Homo sapiens: one gene and its partner. The protein of the gene in region 2 purifies or fractionates together with the protein of the main gene of each other region. This does not show direct contact. Each region holds a gene or a part of one and is shown on either strand. Other genes may lie near its edges.

The links. Proteins that work in one complex are often made in the same cells at the same time.
Region 1: the proteins of DACT2 (region 2) and WDR48 purify together in Homo sapiens (affinity purification with mass spectrometry; one large-scale study listed by BioGRID and IntAct). This does not show direct contact.

Annotation. Positions count from the first base shown.
Region 1 is NC_000003.12:39,093,456-39,097,107, reverse strand, and holds the end of WDR48 (WD repeat-containing protein 48), read right to left. Parts: intron 3,235-3,652; coding exon 3,042-3,234; coding exon of another isoform or gene 2,856-3,041; exon of another isoform or gene 2,461-2,855; coding exon 2,365-2,460; 3' UTR 444-2,364; downstream 1-443. UniProt on the Homo sapiens protein: Regulator of deubiquitinating complexes, which acts as a strong activator of USP1, USP12 and USP46. Enhances the USP1-mediated deubiquitination of FANCD2; USP1 being almost inactive by itself.
Region 2 is NC_000006.12:168,309,632-168,313,283, forward strand, and holds part of DACT2 (dapper homolog 2), read right to left. Parts: intron 2,640-3,652; exon of another isoform or gene 2,530-2,639; intron 1,654-2,529; coding exon 1,521-1,653; intron 816-1,520; coding exon 537-815; intron 1-536. UniProt on the Homo sapiens protein: Involved in regulation of intracellular signaling pathways during development. Negatively regulates the Nodal signaling pathway, possibly by promoting the lysosomal degradation of Nodal receptors, such as TGFBR1.

The DNA of each region.
Region 1 (3,652 bases), on a different chromosome or scaffold from region 2:
TGCTCTGGGGGGCACAGGCCAACTATATGGAGGGAGGGTCCCAAATTAGCAAACCCTTCATTTAAAGCAAACCCTTGTCAAGCCTACCAGAGCAGCTGATACGTGTGCATAACAGTGAGGCATTGTGTCCTGGATCGTCTGGGAGCCCAGTGTCAAGTCTGCTGGAATGCAGGAAGTAGAACAGAATCGCCACAGGACTGTTCTGGGGCCAGCTTCCCTTAACTCTGTAGCCTGGCAGTCTGACCCAAAGTTGCCCTCACCCAAAGGTTCTGGCTCTTCCCTCCCTCACTTTTACTTTCCCTTCCCCCATAAGTTGGAGGATAAAATGGGTATCAATGCTAATATTTCCAGGGAGAACATGAAACCAGAGGTTTCTTTCTTTCTCTGTAATCTGCTATGAAAGAAAATAACAAATGAAAATAAATGTGTACTACACTTTGAAATATTTTAACTAAAGCCTTTATTCTATACAACTGTGAAATACAGATTTTTACCCTTTTGGCATTGCAGACTGTCGAATTTTCTGGAAACTGTATTACGGTTTGACTGGAGGGGAAAGAAATACAATCATGCTGGGGGTCAGATCTATGACAGGAGGGGAATGCAGCCACCCAAGGCTTAGCACACAGGGCAAAATGACCCAGCAAAACCCATTTCTTTGCTCAAAGGCCCCTCGGGCAAACACAACTGAGGGCTGGTAAATAATTTTTTTTTTCTTTGCCATTAATTCACAACTATTGCTAAAAAATGTGCACCAAAAGCACACTGTTGTATCCAACAGATAGAAAGGACTTTTAAAAAAAAAGAAGCTGGTTGCTCTCTGAGGAAGGGAGAAAGACCATTTCAACTTATTAGAAATGTGGCCACGTCTTTGCTCACTTCTTCAAAGTGCAGGTGGCAATGGCCTGTCCAGTTTCCAAAAGAAGCTGACTAGCAGTGAGGGAACCCTGTCTCTGCAGTTGTGCGATCAGAGTATCTTAAATAGTAAGGTATGGCCTTAGGCCTATCAGCTGCCCCCAGCCGAACCTGTGAAGATGTAGAAAAGAAAAAACGTTCCCTGCCTCCCTCCCTAGTCCCTGCTATGGTGGAGGCAGGCCACACACAAGCTAGGGAGGCAACTGGACTGGAATCAACTGCCCTCTGAAGGCACTTGTGCTTCTGGCTTCATACAGGAGGCTTGTCTTACAGTTTTATGGGGGTGGACCACTGATTTACTCTGAATACAAATGACCTTGGGGAGAATCCAAAGTATTTTCTGCCAAAAGTTGAAGTGTTTATCCCCAATAAGTTACACTCTATACAAGATCCAAATGATTCTATGAAAGTGTTAGATTGTTAGAACAGTGAAAAGAAGATCTGGATACAGGTACAACAAAAACCTGCATATAAAACTTTGGAAAAACAAATATGTATACTTCCAGGATATGAATATCAAATTAACTCACTATGATCTCCCTTTATTCTGACACCATAAATTTTAGGTAACATTTGAATGAAACTGAAATTTCATCATGGTCTTAAATTTTGATGGTGTCATGCTGCTCATCCAGAGCAAGAACCTGTGGTCTCAGCTCGCTTTGTGTAAATAAAACTGGACACAGTGGAGGAAGGAGTGAAACTGCTGCACCTCCCTGGGGTTGCCACAAAGCCAGGACATCATGGGAGGTGCAGCATCGCTAGGCATGGGCTGCACAAACTCCGGCCCAACAGTCCAAGTGCTATGATCCAGCACCTGGAATTTCAACAGATCTTCCTACAAGAACACATCTGAGATGCAATATTAACAACAAGCCCAACATTAATCTTTTATTATGAAATGGGCTGGTTCTCAAATTGTGCAACAGCAAATTCCCATTAAAAATAACTGTCTTAAACGGTGAAAACAATTTGATTACTTTATATGACAAACTTGGAAAAAGCCTTCATATCTACTGCATGAATGGAATGTACTGTTTTAGAAAAGCTACAGAGTGTGTGGGCTTAAAGTTGAAACAGAGACAGTTGTGGCCCGACTGAGGTGTCTCTAACAAGTGTTAATGGGTAGATAAGGTCCTTTGAAACAAAAGGAGGAAGCAAAGTCTGCACTGGCCTGTTGTCAGTCTTCTGTACATCTTGAAAGACATAGTCTGCTTGGGGCTCTTCTGCTCTTGCACTCTGCTTCCCTGGGGACAGCTTAATCTACACATGGAGACTGGTTTCTATATTACATCTCGATTAGTCACTTCAATTGAAAGATAATCTCGGTCCATACCAATCAGCCGTTAGAAGTCTTGCTCCCGTTGGGGATCAGTGGGCTTCCTAGGACTACTCTTGGGGCCATAGAGGAAGGTCGTAAATGAATATCCAGGAGCATTAGCCCAGCCTTCACGTGGACTTCTGACGGTAATGGAGGGTGAGGTCTCCACCGCTCTTCCATATGAAGTGTTTCACTGTTCGAAGGTCCATATTTGGATCCAAAACCTGAATAGCCAAAATTAAATTTAAAAATTTCAAAGTCTCTAATATCTAAAACCTTATCATTAACTCAGGGACTCTCATCAGGTGATCCAGCTTGCTCACTCCTCCCCTATGCCTGGTATCCAATTCTTGCTGTCACGGCTTCCATGCATGCGGGAATGAAATTGAGCTTAGTGAGATGTACATCTTTTGTGACTATGCCAGAAACACCAGGCCATCTTTCAGCCATTCCTCTGAGGATACGTTTTGAGTGCATCTTGATTTAAAAAACAGTTCTGCCATTTCTCCGCACACCTTCACTCTAAATCATAAACATGGCACATGCTTTTTGCAAATCAAGAAGACCATGTGTCTTTTTTCTTGTCAGAAAAAAAAGCTACCAGCACATCCACATTTGTCTATGTATCCCTTCTCTGAAAATCTCCCCAGCAGTAAAGAGGAGCTTTAGGGTGGGCTTTAGGTAGGAGAGGCCCAGGGCTCCTTAGAGCCCCTCTAAAAGTAGAAGCCCCCCACCCAAAGGCATGTAACTCTTTATGAGCACCAGCACTGGAAAAATTGGGGCTGTAGTCCTCAAGTCCACTTACCTGGTCCTGGCACAAAAGTTCAATTTTCTCCTCTGCCAACACAGCAATATCTTCTTCTTTTTCCTGTTCTCCTGGTTTTTCATTATTAGAAGAGCTAGTGGTTTGAGACTCATTATCCAAGTTGATAATTTTTTCATAAACATGTTCCATAACTTTTCGGACTTGGAGCATGTCACTAGCAGAGAGTCTATCTCTGTAAAAAAGCAATGGCATATTGTGACATCAGGGAAATCACTAGATATTATTTATTCCATATTATTTTTCTTTGATGCAAACATTTTAAAGATGAAAAATAAACCAATAAATGTTTTTAGTCATTACCTTAATCCATTTTTAGAGCTGCGGAAAGATTTTCTACAGTGTCCTTCTAAGACACAGTTTATGTACAACTAAATGAGATTAATATGTGTTCTTAAAACTTGACATATACAGGCCAGGTGTGGTGGCTCACGCCTATAATCTCAGCACTTTGGGAGGCCAAGGCAGGTGGATCACTTCAGATCAGGAGTTCAAGACCAGCCTGGCTAACCAACATGGTGAAATCCCGTCTCTACTAAAATACAAAAAATTAGCTGGGCATGGTGGTGCACGCCTGTAATTCCAGCTACTCA
Region 2 (3,652 bases):
AGGGGCATGAAGCTGGTCCCTGCAGATGCCCTGGAGGAAACCACGGGGCTTCTCAGTAAGAAAAGACCAAATGGTTATTACTAAACCAGGCCTTGTATTAGAAATAAAACAAGGCCAAAAATGACATCTGTGCCTTTGGAGACAGTCTGAAGACAACTACAGCCCCTCCTGGGCCAGCGGGTGGGATCCAGGTGTGAGCCCGGTTCTCTCCCCACCAGCGCTTTCAACCCCACTCTCACTCCAAACACCAGTGGATCCAGGGTTTTTGAAGGATTTTTTTAAGCTTGCTGATGTCCATTTTAAATACAGGGAAAAGTGCTGTGTGTTATTAGAGCTGGTGGTGATGCGCACAGCCGCATTTGGTTCCTGCCTCCATCCAAACCACCACGTGGCCCACGGAGGCCTTCCAGCGTCCCTTAGAGCCTGACAGCGTGCTCCGTGTAGGGTCCCCGGCTCTGCCCTCAGCAGCTGGGGACTGCACTCTGCCATCCCCTGTGCCTGAGATGAGACCCCCACCTTCCCTGGCAGTTTCTTACCTGTAGACACAGGCCTGGGCCAGAATGTGCCCCACGGCTGGCCTGCATCCTCCACGCTCCCTGGGGGCCTGGCGCCCTCCTCGGTAGCCTGGGGTCTCCACGCTGGCACAGTAGTCTCATCAACCGACCGGGGCCTCCAGTCCCCCATGCTGGGCCTGGCCTTGTGGGCCTGGGCCACAGGCAACAAACTGCCCAGCGAGGGAGAGATGTGGTCACTGCAGACGGAGGCACAGGACGTGGACAGGGAGCAGGATCCACCGTCGCTCATCTCGTAAAAGCCTGGACGGAGCAGACAAGGCAGGTCAGTGACCCCCATCCAGAAAAGCCCAGGGCCCCCTCTCCTCCTGAGCTTGTCACGGCACAGGTGGGCCCAGGGGAACCCCTGAGCTGAGGCTACCGGAGGCTGTGTGCCATCGTCCACACGGCCGGCCTGGGAGAGAGTGGCTCAGGTGAGAATGTTCAGGATTCTTCCCAGGAGCTGCCAGTGGGTTGGTCAGAGCCCACTCCACCTGCACTCTGCAGCCCTGGCCCTCCCTCTTCCTGGCAAGTGGTGCCTTTAGTCCTGGGTGGTCGATGCCTGCCTAAGAGGTGGCCTCTTCCTCTGGATTTCAGCCCTTTTAGGACAGGCCTCTGGCCCCTGTCTCTCTCTTTCTTCCCTGGTGCCTGCCAAGTTGAGGAGACCAGTCTGGGGAGGTGCTTCAGCCACAGGCCTCCTGAGTGCAATAACGTCACTTAGACCACAATGTGATTTTTGCAAATTAAAAAAATAAGAGCGAGGTAGCCAATTAATATATATGCCCTGAGAAAGGCTTCAGTGTTGCCTCCTAACTTTCAGATCAGCCTGACGAAGCGGCCATCTCCCTGCACGGACACTAGGATACCTGGAATGGAATTTCAGCCCAAGAGGGGCTGGCGGGATAGGCTTCACCTCTGCCTGTGCTGCGTGCCTGCCCCTGTGTCCGGGAGGTCAGGGCGCCCTGGTACCTGAGCTGGGCCTGCTGTCGCTGTCCAGGGCCTCCCCTGAGGCTGTGCCCACATCCAGCTGCAGCTTGCTAATCTGCAGGTCCAGCTGGTCCAGGTGGGTCTTCAGGCCGATGTCCTGTTGTCTCAGCCGGGACTGAGAAGGGAAAGAAGAGAAAGGGAACTGTTGTACCTATGGAAAGCAAAACTTAAGGCTCAAAGGGGTGAAAACATGCATTGTGAATGCAATTTAAACTCCCAAAGTCCACGCGAAATACATCTTCTAAATCCGGCAGCTGCCCCTGCTCACTCTGAAGCAATTTCCTTGTTCCACTGTCACAAAAAGAAAGCTCTACTGACACCCATCGCCCCCCACACACATACACACACACAAACACACACACACACCCATCCACACACACATACACACACTCACACACAAACACACACACCCATCCACACACACACATACACACACACTCACACAAACACACACACACCCATCCACACACACACACTCACACACACACCCATACACACATATACACACACACTCACACACACACATACACACATGGGTTTTCTCCAGATCAGACTGCTTTACTTATCCTCACTTTTCAAATTACATTTCTTTATAAGGATACAGAATTCCACAGCTTATGAGAGTGAAATCAGGATCAAAAACAACACCTCCTTTTGGCAGACAGGAACTATCTGCACTGTCTGTTTTGCTGCGTTTTTCAGCCTGCGTAAGGGTTTACTCTCCTGTACTAACGCTTTACGCATCTCATGCCCAGGTGCGGTGGCGTCCTTTCACTCGGCCGCCTCTGGGTCCTTGGTGCCTGGGGAGCACAAACCTTTTGACTTTTCAAGAAGGTAAGAAAGTCCCTTGGAAAGAAAGAAAAGCTCCCCCTTCACTATAAGTCCCTTCTCCTTCCCTGATAGAAGAAGTAGCATTTTGAACTGTTACAGGCTTCGGCAGAGCTACCAGGGGAGAAGGTTCTCAGCAAAACATGGAAAATGTCAGCTTTACCTGGAATAAATGCAGCTTGAAAATCGGCCTTCAGGATCTTTTGTTTTGTTTTAGAGACAGGGTCTTGCTCTGTTGCCCAGGCTGGAGTGCAGTGGTGCGATCACGGCTCACTGCAGCATCGACCTCCCCGGGCTCAGGTGATCCTCCCACCTCAGCCGCCCAAGTATCCGGGACTGCAGGCATGCACCATCACGCCCTGCTAATTTTTGTATTTTTTGTAGAGACAGGGTCTTGCCATGTTGCCCAGGCTGGTCTCCAACTCCTGGACTTAAGTGATCTGCCTTCTTTGGCCTCCCAATGTGCTGGGATTACAGGCATGTGCCTGGCCAAGGGACTGTGTATTTAGAAGTTTCCATCACAGCCCTGCCCTGAGAGGCTGCGCCTTCTCCTGGCCTCAGCTTCCCCCACTCTAAAGGGTTTATAATGAGCATGTGTGTGTGTGTACATGTGTGCGTGTGTGTGCGTCTTTCAATTCTAAAACATTTCTTGTTTTGATGAACAACTACGATTAAGGCAAATAATTAATGAATGTAATTATGTGGTTGTTTCTCTTAAGAAAATGATTAATTATATTTCAAAATTTACGTGGGAAATGAGGAGTTCCCCTGAGCCCCATAACCTAGGCCTCAGGGAATTACTTCAGTAATTTCCACAATATGAGAAATCATTACAAGAGAGAGGCAGGTAGCAATGGTTTCCTGTTCTGATGAGAGAATGACTTCTCAGATTTTCCAAACGCAAGTGCCTACTATCAGCACGGGTGAGGGGATGGAGGCCAGGCTCGACCCAGCACACAGCTTCTGTGCCAGGAGCAGACCTCCTCCTCCAGGACCCAACTCAGGGGCCTCCCAACAACCTCCAAAGTTTGCACAGTGACAGAATCTGAAGCCATAATATTTTTTTTTAGACGGAGTCTCGCTCTGTCCTCCAGGCTGGAGTGCAGTGGCGCGAGTTCAGCTCACTGCAAGCTCCACCTCCCGGGTTCAAGCCATTCTCTTGCCTCAGCCTCCCGAGTAGCTGGTACAGGTGCCTGCCACCATGCCCAGCTAAGTTTTTGTATTTTTAGTAGAGACGGGGTTTCACCATGTTAGCCACGATGGTCTCGATCTCCTGACCTCGTGAT